Regions from separate parts of the Homo sapiens genome. Here region 1 is reported to be linked to region 2. The links are microRNA targets in miRTarBase. Many come from high-throughput screens and were not tested one by one. Region 2 holds a microRNA gene; the other region holds the end of a gene's coding sequence.
What was found. The annotated mature microRNA hsa-miR-1225-3p reads UGAGCCCCUGUGCCGCCCCCAG and lies in region 2 at 5,684-5,705, shown strand. An mRNA with a match to its seed (bases 2 to 7 or 8) in the 3' UTR can be bound and repressed. Matches are read on the target gene's strand: a 7mer-m8 pairs with bases 2 to 8, a 7mer-A1 pairs with bases 2 to 7 and ends in A, and an 8mer does both.

Region 1: miRTarBase lists PPIP5K2 as a target of hsa-miR-1225-3p. Seed matches in the 3' UTR shown: 7mer-A1 at 3,834-3,840.

The regions. Positions count from the first base shown.
Region 1 is chr5:103,200,705-103,208,281 of GRCh38, forward strand. It overlaps PPIP5K2 (diphosphoinositol pentakisphosphate kinase 2), which reads left to right. Exons shown (of 31, transcript NM_001276277.3): 31 at 818-7,577. The coding sequence ends at 930. Among named protein-coding and RNA genes, the nearest start is that of MACIR, 54 kb to the right of the region's middle.
Region 2 is chr16:2,087,919-2,095,899 of GRCh38, reverse strand. MIR1225 (microRNA 1225) reads left to right here and starts at 5,616; the gene lies at 5,616-5,705. It overlaps TSC2 (TSC complex subunit 2), which reads right to left. Exons shown (of 42, transcript NM_000548.5): 39 at 7,959-7,981; 40 at 7,761-7,852; 41 at 7,575-7,673; 42 at 6,409-7,454. The coding sequence ends at 7,290. PKD1 (polycystin 1, transient receptor potential channel interacting) reads left to right here. Exons shown (of 46, transcript NM_001009944.3): 35 at 1,690-1,808; 36 at 1,887-2,089; 37 at 2,162-2,356; 38 at 2,807-2,946; 39 at 3,308-3,420; 40 at 3,712-3,853; 41 at 3,994-4,119; 42 at 4,303-4,477; 43 at 4,726-5,016; 44 at 5,092-5,226; 45 at 5,310-5,615; 46 at 5,706-7,192. The coding sequence ends at 6,173. PKD1-AS1 (PKD1 antisense RNA 1) reads right to left here and starts at 4,464. Exons shown (of 3, transcript NR_135175.1): 1 at 4,286-4,464; 2 at 2,888-3,011; 3 at 883-1,179.

The DNA of each region.
Region 1 (7,577 bases), not on the chromosome of region 2:
GGCTCACTGCAGCCTCAACCTATCAGGCTCAAGCAATCTTCCTACGTTGGCCTCCTGAGTAGCTGAGACTATAAGTGTGTGCCACCACACCCAGCTAATTTTTAAAGTTTTTTGTAGAGAAGGGGGTCTCACTATGTTGCCAGGGCTCGTCTTGAACTTCTGGGCTCAAGCGATCCTCCCACGTTGGCCCTCCAAAGTGTTGGGATTACAGGCATGAATCACCCTGCCTGGCCTAGAATAGTTTTTTGATAATTCATGAAGACTTCATGTTGGTTTAGACACAGAAGGATGATTCCTAAGTCAAGCGTGCTTCTAGTTTTCTTACCTTCTAGCTTTTTAGAGAGGGATAAGATAGAAGATACAAGAGGAAATAGATGCTTGTAGAGAAAATGATGAGTTCAGTTTATGCATATTAAGTTTGTCTTTCTCGTCAGATATCTTTAAAGAAAGTTTCAATTGGCAGTTGTATATACATATCTTGAGCTAAAGGAAAAGGCCCAGGCCAGAAGTATAAATTTAAAAATCATTAGCACAATGGATGGTAGTTAAAAATTATGAAAATATATTCATTTCCTAGGAAGCATGTAGAGTAAAATGAGAAATTAATTTTGTGAACACAGCCCATTGTCATTACCTTTCTATATTTGTGTTGAATTCTGAAAAGTAAAAGGTTAAAAATGCTATATTAAATTTTTACATTTCATTTACATCACAATTATAACAAGAATTGTTTTGTCAATCAGCAGTATTATTTGAACTTGGATTGTTTGTGTAAATTTAAGCAATAGTTTTTTTTTTTTGTTTTTGTTTTATGTAGCTACAAGTGGACCTTCTAGTGCAGTTGTTCCTAATACCTCATCTCGGAAAAAGAATATAACTAGCAAAACAGAAACGCATGAACACAAAAAAAACACTGGGAAAAAGAAATGAAATCTTAGCAGAAGCTGGAACTTTTTATACTTATAAAAATAGTATGTTCTTATGTTTCTCCTTATGCATTTATGTGTTCACTTAAAAATGTTTTTAAATCTAAGGTTTTCTTTGTTTATGTTCAGGTAAGGAACTGTTGTCATGATCTGGAAATGTTTAAAACAATGTTTGTTAGCATTCTGTGAGCAGCAAAACTTATAGTGATAAAAATCGATTGTTGTTAATATGATGTTTACCATGTGCACATAGTAATGAAAAGGAACATAAAAGCCCAGCAGGCTCGTACCAAAGTCACAGCAGTAATGCTATGTACTGCAGAGTCTGATGAGCTGGCCTTTGTGCACACTTTTATTTTCATGGGATTGCATCTTAGCTGTTAAAACTTCTAGATTGAAATTTGACAGCCAGGGTTACATATTGGGGACTTTTAAAGTGTCTTTCCAAAGAGATTTCATTAACCGTTTAGATTAGAATATCTTTCCCAATTGTTACAGTGACATATATGCTGCAATATTTAACAACTGGAGTATTAGCCACATGGGTTATTTTTTCAATCTGTGTTTTGAATTTTTTTATTGTGTGTTATTTAAAATATTACATATGCAGCTGGGAGAACTACACCTTTGTGCACATAGATTTATATATTAATTTGTAGAAAATATTTTCTTTATATATTTCCTTACCATACAAGGTGCCTTGTTCATCAGGAAAACTTTTGTTTTGTATTTTGACAAGAAAGGCACCTTCAGAGTTTCTTTTTAAGTATAGTTGACAAGTGTATAAATGTTACACTTACTTTCAGAGTTCTTTTTAGATCTAAAGAAGTCAGTTCAAAAATGGAAATCAACAATGTTAGGAGAAATCTGAATTCTGTTAAGTTAGTAAGTATTATGTATAGCATCTGTTTTTAACCATTTCCATTCTTATCCCTAGTGTATCAGTTGATCACACTAAGAAAGCTTAAAGATTGAGCATTTGAAATAAATGCTCTTTATAAATGATTAGATTTTTGAAGGGATATTGAAATCATTGCGCTGTGATTTCATCTGTGATGTGAAAAATCAATTTATTATCCTTGGTGCTTTCCCCCCCACCAATGCACAAATAATTGTGAACAGCTTGAAATGACTTAAACTGTAATCCAAATGGGACAATCTGATAAGAATTTCATGCATTGGTAGTTAAATAACTTAAATTGCTAAAGCTTTAGCTTGAAATTTATGTTTAGAAAAACTATTGATTTCCCATGGTATGAATATAACTATTGTAATTCTTCAAATGAGACTCTTCTCACCTTAAATAGTCATATATTAATTAACTTATAGGAAATAAGCATACTATATGTTAGCTGTTTTAAAAGGTACCAGATGTAAGAGTCATAAATATATGCAATTAAAGAAGTTCATAGATTTCACATGAATGTAAATGTGTTATATGGAGACATGTCTTGTAAACAGTTGAATGTATGTAAGTTTTCTGTTTGTGAAAATGTAGTTAATGTACTCACTGTGGAGGTCATAAGGAAGCTACTTTTTTTTTAAAGTGGAACCTAATTAAAATATTTCCAGAATCAAAGAGACTTAAATGGTAAATTTTTAAAATTTTCTTATCTCTTACTTTTTAGTTTTCAAAGTAGAAAAAATCAGGAATTTTTTTATTAACTAGTACTTACATATTAAATAAAATTTATTATTGGCTATATACATAGCAATATATTACTTTCCAAACTAGAAAGTACAGTACAACTAACTTTTTCCATTGTTATGCAAGAACTATTACTTTCCTGTAGTCACCAAACTCAGTAGTATTGCTCTGTAGACTAGACACTCTATTTGTAAAAATCTTAGAATCACTTTCCAAAACAAATAAAAAGTCTACTGTATCAGAGCAAAATGTTATAGTTATCACTGTTTAGTGGCAGTTTGACTGAAGCATCTGTTTCTCACTTGATTCTGTCCTGAGAAGATGTGGGATTTTTTGGTTTTAAATACTAGAAGATATTTCTTCTTAGAGCCCAGTCCTCCATCCCAAAGAGGTGAACTAGCCCAGCATGAAGAATTGTCTAGTCACCCTGAGATATTAATCTTCATAATGTATTATTCAGTTCCTTCACCCTTAAAAGCCATATAATAGGCTCAGACCTAACTTAGCCCTTGAAGTCTAGTGCTGGCAGATTCTGCTGCCCTGGTTTAAATGAGTTACGTAGTCCATTCTCAAATACTAGCAAATTTGGGGGGCGTGGTACAGCAATTTTGGGTGAAGAAAAGTGTGCTGAACACCTTATGTCAGTGATAGACAAGATATAGAGGCTGAAGGGAATACAGTAAAGTAACAAAAACATGTGGCAGTGTGCTTAGCATAAACATAGAGCACAAAGGCAATAGATGGAAATTATGAGAGAAAAGTTAAAGTTCTTCAAGAAATATCCAATTAAAACTCACTAGCCAAGGAAAAAGTTTCTGTTTTCACCCGGATTTCTTTTTGGGTTGACTCTGTCTGACCTAAATGTCCACTGTTAACTAGTGCCATGCCAGTTTGAACCAAGATTTCACATTTTTGTTTTGTATTCATACTTTGGTAGAAATTTCTCAGTCTTTGTGTATTTATAAGAATTTGCTTTACACATAGTGTACAGTGTTTATTAACTTTACATCATTTTATCCTTGCCTTACTATCTGGACAGTGTAGACTGCCTATATTCTTAGTTGGGGTTGGGATCTCTTCTCTTAGAGTGGCCCAGCAGTTTTAGCCCCTCTCTAATTCTCTTTTCCTGTGTTGGGAGATATCAAAACAACAGAATTCTTGCCAGTGGGAACATTTTTCTTTTTTAGACAAGGTCTCATTCTGTCACCCCAGCTGGAGTGCAGTGGCACAGTCTTAATTCACTACAGCCTTGAACTCCTGGGCTCAAGAAATCTTTCTGCTTCAGCCTCCTAAATAGCTGGTACTATAGGTGCGTGCCACCACACCCAGCTCATGGGAATAATTTTTACACTCCTTCAGAAGGAGTCATTTGTGATTGGAGTCCACATAGAAACAGGTTTCCCTCTGTACATAATCGTAGGTACCAAAATATTACTGTGTAAAGTGTTGTTTATATAGGTCAATTTTTGTGGAAGATCTAATTTCTATTTTCAGAGAACAGAGCACATTAAAAAATCTATTTAGTATTGTGTACTATATAATCTATGTGAATTATAGCTCCTTAACTAAATATATTACTGAGTTTTTTTTTTAATACTGTAAGTTCTAGGGTACATGTGCACAATGTGCAGGTTTGTTACATAGGTATACATGTGCCATGTTGGTTTGCTGCACCCATGAACTCATCATTTACATTAGGTATTTCTCCTAATGCTATCCCTCCCCCAGCCCCCCACCCACTGACAGGCCCAGTGTGTGATGTTCCCCGCCCTGTGTCCAAGTACTGTTCTCATTGTTCAGTTCCCTCTTATGAGTGAGAACATGCGGTGTTTGGTTTTCTGTCCTTGTGATAGTTTGCTGAGAATGATGGTTTCCAGCTTCATCCATGTCCTTGTCATCCTTTTTTTTGGCTGCATAGTATTCCATGGTGTATATGTGCCACATTTTCTTAATCCAGTCTATCATTGATGGACATCTGGGTTGGTCCCAAGTCTTTGCTATTGTGAATAGTGCCACAATAAACATACGTGTGCATGTGTCTTTATAGTGGCATGATTTATAATCCTTTGGGTATATACCCAGTAATGGGATGGCTGGGTCAAATGGTATTTCTAGTTCTAGATCCTTGAGGAATCGCCACACTGTCTTCCACAATGGTTGAACTAATTTACACTCCCACCAAGTGTTCCTATTTCTCCACATCCTCTCCAGCATCTGTTGTTTCCTGACTTTTCAATGATCGCCATTCTAACTGGCGTGAGATGGTATCTCATTTGTAAGATGATATCTCATTGAGATTTTTATAAACTGCTTTTCTTTTGGTTCATGTGCTTTGTCATGGATTGTGAGAAAAACATCTTTTCGCTTAGGGATCACTGTCAATTTCTCCTTTTATTATCAATGGTTTTTACTTTACTTTTTATATAGTATGTGGGTATGTTTTCTGGTGCATATAAATTCATGAATGCTAGATTTTCATTATAGGTTTTACCTTATCATTATTAAAATGTCCTTTTTGTCCATTGGATACTTTTTGTTCTATAAATTGTCAGATATTAAGATTATGACCTATGCTTTATTTTGGCTTGCATTTGCCTGATATTCATCTTTTTACTTTTTGGTATTTGTGTCACTTTGTTTTAGGTTATTTAATATAGTATATATTGGGTTTTGCTTTGTGATTCAATTTTAAGATCCCTTTTACTTAATAGATTAGTGTAGTCTGTTTTATGTAATGTATCTTTGCTTTTAGATTGTGCTTGCTTTTTTTATTGCTTTAAAATTCTTTTGTCTTTCTGTAACAATACTTTCCACTGCAAGTAGGAAAATTCCAATTGAAACTGGTTTAAATCATCAGAAAATGTATTATTACACATTTCTGAAGGTCCAAAGGTGGGGTTGGCTTCAGCCACAGTTGCATTAGCCATATTGTCATCAAAAGCCCAAGTGACCTCCCTTGTCACCTCTGGCATAGTATAAACTTTATCCCAAAGTTGTTTTCTCTCGTGTTAACAATAATTGCTGTCGGTTTCAGTGAGGACTACATATTTTTTTTGTTCATGTCCAACACAATAAAAATTGAGGGAAGTTCTGTCCCAATCCTGGAATATTAATATTAAGCCATCTACTTCAGTGTGATTGAGCCAACTTCTTTGATCATCTACTCACCCCTAGATAAATAGAATACTCCAGGAGATTCCCATGACCTTACTGACCCTAGAGCAGATGATGGAGTCAGTTTTTCCGAAAAGCCTCAGCACTGTTGACATTTTGGACCATAAAATTCTACATCATAGGAAGCTGTTCCATGCATAGCAGCATGTCTAGTAGGATCTCTGTACCTAGCTGTGAAGTGTTGAGAGTCAGTTAAGGTAAGTAGCTGAAATGAAAATAACAATCACATCTTTATTCACTTACTATGATAAAATTATAAGCAAGAGACCAAAAAGGAAAGTAGGGCCAGCTCCTTGTTGTTCCATTTTTCCCCTACCATGGACTAGCACTGGACATGCGTCAATCAGACGACATGCAGTCCAGGCAGAGGAAATTGTTTCACTGCTAAGGAGCAATGAACAAAAGGTTCCTGCCATCTTATGGACCTCAAGGACTGCGGACAGGGAGCAGGGAAGGGTTAGAAGTAGAAAACAACTGAGTCAGAGTGGAGATGAGTGTCTCAGTCAAGGCCCACCAATAGCGAGGTCTCTGTGGAGGCACCTGAAAAGTGTCTCAACCAAGGCCCCCTGATAAGGAAGACTCAGCATGGAGGTACCTGGTCTAGGAATGCAGCTAGGTTTATAGACATGGCCAGCCCAGGGGGTCCTGAGCACCAGATACAACTCCCTCCAGAGACTGGCTGTGTTTAAATCTCATGTGGGAAGGGCACCTTTCCCCTACAAAGCCTGTCAGGCAAAGCCTTTGTAATTGCTTATGGTCAGGCCTGAAAGATCACACATCAGACTTTGGCCTGGAACATATCTCCTCACCCTAAATGCCAGCAGCATCGCCTCCAAACTGTGGCAGTCAAAAATGTCTCCAGACATTAGTAAATGTCTTTTGTGAGGGAAGAATTGACCCTAGTTAAGAACCACTGCCCTAAAGCACATGATTCTGTGGAAAAGAAGGATATATGACCAAAATCATCATTTTGGATAGTGAGGGCATGGATAATGGATACATAATCAGCAATGTATGCTGTATACTACACTTGCATTATGTTATTCACATTTGCTATAGTTCACTTGTTGTGCTAATGGTTTTTTCCTTCACTATGATTTTGAATTATATTTAATTTTAAAGTCTATATATATATATATATAGATCCTATCTGTTGACTCCTTGCTGTGAACAATATCCAATTAGTGTATTTTTTCCTCTACTGCACAGTTTTGGTTGATTATTTTTTCCTTTTCATTTCTTTTCTGAACTTTGTTAGCTTATGTTGCATTTCCTTTGGTTGTTTTGCTATGGTGTTTCTGATCAACTACATTTCTTTATGAACTCTATTTCCTTAAGTTCTTTGAGTTATGACAGTATATTTGGTCACATTTTTCATGTGCTCAGCTGATTCATTCTTTCCTGTTGAGTGGTTTTTATCTGCTAATTGTTTCTGCTTGTTCCATTTCTCCTTTTCTTGAAGTGTTTGTGCATGAACACTGTGCAGGTTTATTTTCAAGTATTACTTACCTTTATATGAGATAAATTTCTTTCTGGCTCATCTATTTGATACAATTTCTTTTTTGTTTGTTTTTGTTTTGTTTTTGTTGTTTTTTAAAATGCAATTTCATATGTTAGGTAGGTTGGCTTTTCTTTTTCTTTTTCTTTTTTTTTTTGAGATGGAGTTTTACTCTTGTTGCCTAGGCTGGAGTGCAGTGGCATGATCTCAGCTCACTGCAACCTCCACCTTCCAGTTTCAAATGATTCTCCTCCCTCAGCCTCCAGAGTAGCTGGGATTACAGGCGCCCGCCACCACGCCTGGCTAATTTTTGCATTTTTAGTAGAGACTG
Region 2 (7,981 bases):
TCCAGGGGTAGTCACTACATGCTGACCAGCCCCAGGTATCTCCGGCCCAAAGCTCTGTGAAATCCAGATTCAGTGCTTCCGCGGGGATTTCTGACGGCAGCTCAGACTCCGCATCCACACAGAGCGCGTGGCCCTCACCCTCCCGGCTTCCTCAACCCTTGGCCGTCCCTTGCTCGGACAGTGCTTCGGGCTGACCAGGTCGGAGGCTTGGGTTTGTCCTGGACCCCTCTGCGTCCTTCCTCACTGCAGCCTCCAGCGCGTCCCGTGGCTCCTTTCCCAACGCAGAGCACGGCCTTCCCTGCGCCTGAGCCTGCACCCTCCGTCCTGGCGGCGCCTCTGCCCTGGCATTCCCTGCCACTCCATGCCTCCCTATTGGCCATTCTCCGTCTCTGCCAGCGAGAGCCTGCTCCCTGAGTCAGACCCTGAGTCATTTGTGTTGCTATAAAGGAATAGTTGAGGCTGGGTTATTTTTTATTTTTATTTATTTTTTTGAGATGGAGTCTCTGTTGCCCAGACTGGAGTGCAGTCGCATGATCTCGGCTCACTGCAAAGTCTGCCTCCCACGTTCAAGCAGTTATCTGCCTCAGCCTCCCAAGTAGCTAAGATTACAGGCGCCCGCCGCCACAGCCGGCTAATTTTTTGTGTGTGTGTTTTAGTAGAGAGGAGGTTTCACCATCTTAGCCAGGCTGGTCTTGAACTCCTGACCTCGTGATCCACCCATCTCAGCCTCCCAAAATGCTGAGATTACAGGCGTGAGCCACCACGCCTGACCAAGTTGAGGCTAGGTCATTTTTTAATTTTTTGTAAAGACAGGGTCTCACTGTCTCCAACTCCTGAGCTCAAGTGATCCTCCTGCCTCAGCCTCCTGAAGTGCTGGGATTACAGGCTTGAGACACTGCGCCCAGCCAAGAGTGTCTTTTATCCTCCGAGAGACAGCAAAACAGGAAGCATTCAGTGCAGTGTGACCCTGGGTCAGGCCGTTCTTTCGGTGATGGGCTGACGAGGGCGCAGGTACGGGAGAGCGTCCTGAGAGCCCGGGACTCGGCGTCTCGCAGTTGGTCTCGTCCTCCCCCTCAACGTGTCTTCGCTGCCTCTGTACCTCTTCTCTAGCAGCTCTGGGACCGGGCATATCAGCATGGTGGCCCGATGCAGTGGCACAGCCTCGGTGGTCACTGGCTCCTGGAGACACAAGCAGATCTCTGGCCTCAGGGAGCCCTACACACTGTTGGGATTTGAAAGGCATTCATATGTTTCCTTGTCCAGAAGTTAATTTTAGGCCATAAACCTGCATGGGACAGACACACTGGCGTCTCTAGATTGTAGAGATGCTTGTTGGATGGTTGAGACCCAATCATAGTTTGCAGGGTTGAAGGGGGGCTCATTGCACCCTGAGAGACTGTGCACTGCTGTAAGGGCAGCTGGTCAGGCTGTGGGCGATGGGTTTATCAGCAGCAAGCGGGCGGGAGAGGGACGCAGGCGGACGCCTGACTTCGGTGCCTGGAGTGGCTCTTGGTTCCCTGGCTCCCAGCACCACTCCCACTCTCGTTTGGGGTAGGGTCTTCCGGCTTTTTGTCGGGGGGACCCTGTGACCCAAGAGGCTCAAGAAACTGCCCGCCCAGGTTAACATGGGCTTGGCTGCAACTGCCTCCTGGAGGCCGGGATGAATTCACAGCCTACCATGTCCCTCAGGTCCAGCACTCCTGGGGAGAAGACAGAGACGCTGGCGCTGCAGAGGCTGGGGGAGCTGGGGCCACCCAGCCCAGGCCTGAACTGGGAACAGCCCCAGGCAGCGAGGCTGTCCAGGACAGGTGTGCTTGCGTAGCCCCGGGATGCCCCTAGCCCCTCCCTGTGAGCTGCCTCTCACAGGTCTGTCTCTGCTTCCCCAGGACTGGTGGAGGGTCTGCGGAAGCGCCTGCTGCCGGCCTGGTGTGCCTCCCTGGCCCACGGGCTCAGCCTGCTCCTGGTGGCTGTGGCTGTGGCTGTCTCAGGGTGGGTGGGTGCGAGCTTCCCCCCGGGCGTGAGTGTTGCGTGGCTCCTGTCCAGCAGCGCCAGCTTCCTGGCCTCATTCCTCGGCTGGGAGCCACTGAAGGTGAGGGGGCTGCCAGGGGTAGGCTACAGGCCTCCATCACGGGGGACCCCTCTGAAGCCACCCCCTCCCCAGGTCTTGCTGGAAGCCCTGTACTTCTCACTGGTGGCCAAGCGGCTGCACCCGGATGAAGATGACACCCTGGTAGAGAGCCCGGCTGTGACGCCTGTGAGCGCACGTGTGCCCCGCGTACGGCCACCCCACGGCTTTGCACTCTTCCTGGCCAAGGAAGAAGCCCGCAAGGTCAAGAGGCTACATGGCATGCTGCGGGTGAGCCTGGGTGCGGCCTGTGCCCCTGCCACCTCCGTCTCTTGTCTCCCACCTCCCACCCATGCACGCAGGACACTCCTGTCCCCCTTTCCTCACCTCAGAAGGCCCTTAGGGGTTCAATGCTCTGCAGCCTTTGCCCGGTCTCCCTCCTACCCCACGCCCCCCACTTGCTGCCCCAGTCCCTGCCAGGGCCCAGCTCCAATGCCCACTCCTGCCTGGCCCTGAAGGCCCCTAAGCACCACTGCAGTGGCCTGTGTGTCTGCCCCCAGGTGGGGTTCCGGGCAGGGTGTGTGCTGCCATTACCCTGGCCAGGTAGAGTCTTGGGGCGCCCCCTGCCAGCTCACCTTCCTGCAGCCACACCTGCCGCAGCCATGGCTCCAGCCGTTGCCAAAGCCCTGCTGTCACTGTGGGCTGGGGCCAGGCTGACCACAGGGCCCCCCCGTCCACCAGAGCCTCCTGGTGTACATGCTTTTTCTGCTGGTGACCCTGCTGGCCAGCTATGGGGATGCCTCATGCCATGGGCACGCCTACCGTCTGCAAAGCGCCATCAAGCAGGAGCTGCACAGCCGGGCCTTCCTGGCCATCACGCGGTACGGGCATCCGGTGCACTGGTCTGTCTTCTGGGCTTTAGTTTTGCCTTTAGTCCAGCCAGACCCTAGGGGACATGTGGACATGTGTAGATACCTTTGTGGCTGCTAGAACTGGAGGTAGGTGCTGCTGGCATCAGTAGGCAGAGGGGAGGGACACAGGTCCGTGTCTTGCAGTGCACAGGACGGGCCCATGACAGACAACTGTCTGCCCCAGAACATCCCCAGGATAAGGCTGAGAAGCCCAGGTCTAGCCGTGGCCAGCAGGGCAGTGGGAGCCATGTTCCCTGGGTCTCTGGTGGCCGCTCACTCGAGGCGGGCATGGGGCAGTAGGGGCTGGAGCGTGTGACTGATGCTGTGGCAGGTCTGAGGAGCTCTGGCCATGGATGGCCCACGTGCTGCTGCCCTACGTCCACGGGAACCAGTCCAGCCCAGAGCTGGGGCCCCCACGGCTGCGGCAGGTGCGGCTGCAGGAAGGTGAGCTGGCAGGGCGTGCCCCAAGACTTAAATCGTTCCTCTTGTTGAGAGAGCAGCCTTTAGCGGAGCTCTGGCATCAGCCCTGCTCCCTAGCTGTGTGACCTTTGCCCTCTTAACACCGCCGTTTCCTTCTCTGTATATGAGAGATGGTAACGTTGTCTAATTGATGGCTGCTGGGAGGGTTCCCTGGGGTGGCGCCGAACCAGAGCTCAGGCGAGCTGGCCAGCAGGAAACACTCCTGTTGGGTTTTGATGAGGCCCTGGCCCCGGCCTGGGGCTCTGTGTGTTTCAGCACTCTACCCAGACCCTCCCGGCCCCAGGGTCCACACGTGCTCGGCCGCAGGAGGCTTCAGCACCAGCGATTACGACGTTGGCTGGGAGAGTCCTCACAATGGCTCGGGGACGTGGGCCTATTCAGCGCCGGATCTGCTGGGGTGAGCAGAGCGAGGGCCCCGGGCGTCTACGCCAAGGACAAGGGAGTAGTTCTCCAGGAGTGCCGCGGCCTCCTGACCAGCCTGGCTCCGGGGTGCCGGAAGGGCTGGGGTGCGGCACCCACGCCACCCCTCTCCGGCAGGGCATGGTCCTGGGGCTCCTGTGCCGTGTATGACAGCGGGGGCTACGTGCAGGAGCTGGGCCTGAGCCTGGAGGAGAGCCGCGACCGGCTGCGCTTCCTGCAGCTGCACAACTGGCTGGACAACAGGTGGGAGCTCCCTCCCCTGCCCTCTCCGGGGTGGCCGCAGTCACCAGCCAGGAGCCCACCCTCACTCCTCCGGCCCCCGCTGGCCTAGGCGGCTTCCACAGCCCCTCAGCCACGCCTGCACTGCGCGGTCCCCGCAGCTCCCGCCCTGCCACCCGCTCCTACTGACCCGCACCCTCTGCGCAGGAGCCGCGCTGTGTTCCTGGAGCTCACGCGCTACAGCCCGGCCGTGGGGCTGCACGCCGCCGTCACGCTGCGCCTCGAGTTCCCGGCGGCCGGCCGCGCCCTGGCCGCCCTCAGCGTCCGCCCCTTTGCGCTGCGCCGCCTCAGCGCGGGCCTCTCGCTGCCTCTGCTCACCTCGGTACGCCCGTCCCCGGCCAGACCCCGCGCCTCCCACCGGCAGCGTCCCGCCCCCTCGCGGGGCCCCGCCCCGGCAGCGTCTCACCCCTCGCAGCGCCCCGCCCCCTCGCAGCGTCCCGCCCCCTCGCAGGGCCCCGCCCCGGCAGCGTCCCGCCCCCTCGTAGGGCCCCGCCCCGGCAGCGTCCCGCCCCCTCGCAGGGCCCCGCCCCGGCAGCGTCCCTCCCGCCCTCCTGACCGCGCCCCCCACAGGTGTGCCTGCTGCTGTTCGCCGTGCACTTCGCCGTGGCCGAGGCCCGTACTTGGCACAGGGAAGGGCGCTGGCGCGTGCTGCGGCTCGGAGCCTGGGCGCGGTGGCTGCTGGTGGCGCTGACGGCGGCCACGGCACTGGTACGCCTCGCCCAGCTGGGTGCCGCTGACCGCCAGTGGACCCGTTTCGTGCGCGGCCGCCCGCGCCGCTTCACTAGCTTCGACCAGGTGGCGCAGCTGAGCTCCGCAGCCCGTGGCCTGGCGGCCTCGCTGCTCTTCCTGCTTTTGGTCAAGGTGAGGGCTGGGCCGGTGGGCGCGGGGCTGGGCGCACACCCCAGGGCTGCAAGCAGACAGATTTCTCGTCCGCAGGCTGCCCAGCAGCTACGCTTCGTGCGCCAGTGGTCCGTCTTTGGCAAGACATTATGCCGAGCTCTGCCAGAGCTCCTGGGGGTCACCTTGGGCCTGGTGGTGCTCGGGGTAGCCTACGCCCAGCTGGCCATCCTGGTAGGTGACTGCGCGGCCGGGGAGGGCGTCTTAGCTCAGCTCAGCTCAGCTGTACGCCCTCACTGGTGTCGCCTTCCCCGCAGCTCGTGTCTTCCTGTGTGGACTCCCTCTGGAGCGTGGCCCAGGCCCTGTTGGTGCTGTGCCCTGGGACTGGGCTCTCTACCCTGTGTCCTGCCGAGTCCTGGCACCTGTCACCCCTGCTGTGTGTGGGGCTCTGGGCACTGCGGCTGTGGGGCGCCCTACGGCTGGGGGCTGTTATTCTCCGCTGGCGCTACCACGCCTTGCGTGGAGAGCTGTACCGGCCGGCCTGGGAGCCCCAGGACTACGAGATGGTGGAGTTGTTCCTGCGCAGGCTGCGCCTCTGGATGGGCCTCAGCAAGGTCAAGGAGGTGGGTACGGCCCAGTGGGGGGGAGAGGGACACGCCCTGGGCTCTGCCCAGGGTGCAGCCGGACTGACTGAGCCCCTGTGCCGCCCCCAGTTCCGCCACAAAGTCCGCTTTGAAGGGATGGAGCCGCTGCCCTCTCGCTCCTCCAGGGGCTCCAAGGTATCCCCGGATGTGCCCCCACCCAGCGCTGGCTCCGATGCCTCGCACCCCTCCACCTCCTCCAGCCAGCTGGATGGGCTGAGCGTGAGCCTGGGCCGGCTGGGGACAAGGTGTGAGCCTGAGCCCTCCCGCCTCCAAGCCGTGTTCGAGGCCCTGCTCACCCAGTTTGACCGACTCAACCAGGCCACAGAGGACGTCTACCAGCTGGAGCAGCAGCTGCACAGCCTGCAAGGCCGCAGGAGCAGCCGGGCGCCCGCCGGATCTTCCCGTGGCCCATCCCCGGGCCTGCGGCCAGCACTGCCCAGCCGCCTTGCCCGGGCCAGTCGGGGTGTGGACCTGGCCACTGGCCCCAGCAGGACACCCCTTCGGGCCAAGAACAAGGTCCACCCCAGCAGCACTTAGTCCTCCTTCCTGGCGGGGGTGGGCCGTGGAGTCGGAGTGGACACCGCTCAGTATTACTTTCTGCCGCTGTCAAGGCCGAGGGCCAGGCAGAATGGCTGCACGTAGGTTCCCCAGAGAGCAGGCAGGGGCATCTGTCTGTCTGTGGGCTTCAGCACTTTAAAGAGGCTGTGTGGCCAACCAGGACCCAGGGTCCCCTCCCCAGCTCCCTTGGGAAGGACACAGCAGTATTGGACGGTTTCTAGCCTCTGAGATGCTAATTTATTTCCCCGAGTCCTCAGGTACAGCGGGCTGTGCCCGGCCCCACCCCCTGGGCAGATGTCCCCCACTGCTAAGGCTGCTGGCTTCAGGGAGGGTTAGCCTGCACCGCCGCCACCCTGCCCCTAAGTTATTACCTCTCCAGTTCCTACCGTACTCCCTGCACCGTCTCACTGTGTGTCTCGTGTCAGTAATTTATATGGTGTTAAAATGTGTATATTTTTGTATGTCACTATTTTCACTAGGGCTGAGGGGCCTGCGCCCAGAGCTGGCCTCCCCCAACACCTGCTGCGCTTGGTAGGTGTGGTGGCGTTATGGCAGCCCGGCTGCTGCTTGGATGCGAGCTTGGCCTTGGGCCGGTGCTGGGGGCACAGCTGTCTGCCAGGCACTCTCATCACCCCAGAGGCCTTGTCATCCTCCCTTGCCCCAGGCCAGGTAGCAAGAGAGCAGCGCCCAGGCCTGCTGGCATCAGGTCTGGGCAAGTAGCAGGACTAGGCATGTCAGAGGACCCCAGGGTGGTTAGAGGAAAAGACTCCTCCTGGGGGCTGGCTCCCAGGGTGGAGGAAGGTGACTGTGTGTGTGTGTGTGTGCGCGCGCGCACGCGCGAGTGTGCTGTATGGCCCAGGCAGCCTCAAGGCCCTCGGAGCTGGCTGTGCCTGCTTCTGTGTACCACTTCTGTGGGCATGGCCGCTTCTAGAGCCTCGACACCCCCCCAACCCCCGCACCAAGCAGACAAAGTCAATAAAAGAGCTGTCTGACTGCAATCTGTGCCTCTATGTCTGTGCACTGGGGTCAGGACTTTATTTATTTCACTGACAGGCAATACCGTCCAAGGCCAGTGCAGGAGGGAGGGCCCCGGCCTCACACAAACTCGGTGAAGTCCTCCACCGAGGAGATGAGGCGCTTCCGCTGGCCCACCTCATAGCCAGGTGTGGGCTCGGCTGGAGTCTGTGCAGGGGCTTTGCTATGGGACGGAGGGTGCACCAGAGGTAGGCTGGGGTTGGAGTAGGCGGCTTCCTCGCAGATCTGAAGGCAGAGGCGGCTTGGGCAGTAAGTCTGGGAGGCGTGGCAACCGCTCTGCCCACACACCCGCCCCACAGCTTGGGCAGCCAGCACACCCCGCTGAGGGAGCCCCATATTCCCTACCCGCTGGCGGAGCCGCTTGATGTGGCGGAGCCGGGCAATCCACTTGGAGGGGTAGATATCGGTGGGGTTGGAGCGGCTATGATGCACCTGTGAGGCCATCTGGGGACGTAGGCAGGGGGTGAGCTCACTATCAGGTGGCACCTGGGCCTGTCCCACCAGCTCACGCCTGGACCCACCCCCACTCACATTTGCGTGCAGGGCCATCTGGCGGGCCACGAAGGGCAGGTTGCGGTCAGACACGATCTTGGCCACGCTGGTGTCCACAAGGCCCTCCATGTCTGGGGAGACTTGGTGGTCACGCCAGGCCCAGGGCTCTTGGCGCCACACTGCAGGGCCCCACCCGGCCCTACCTTTCCTGCACTGCAGGGCCCCACCCGGCCCTACCTTTCCTGCACTGCAGGGACACC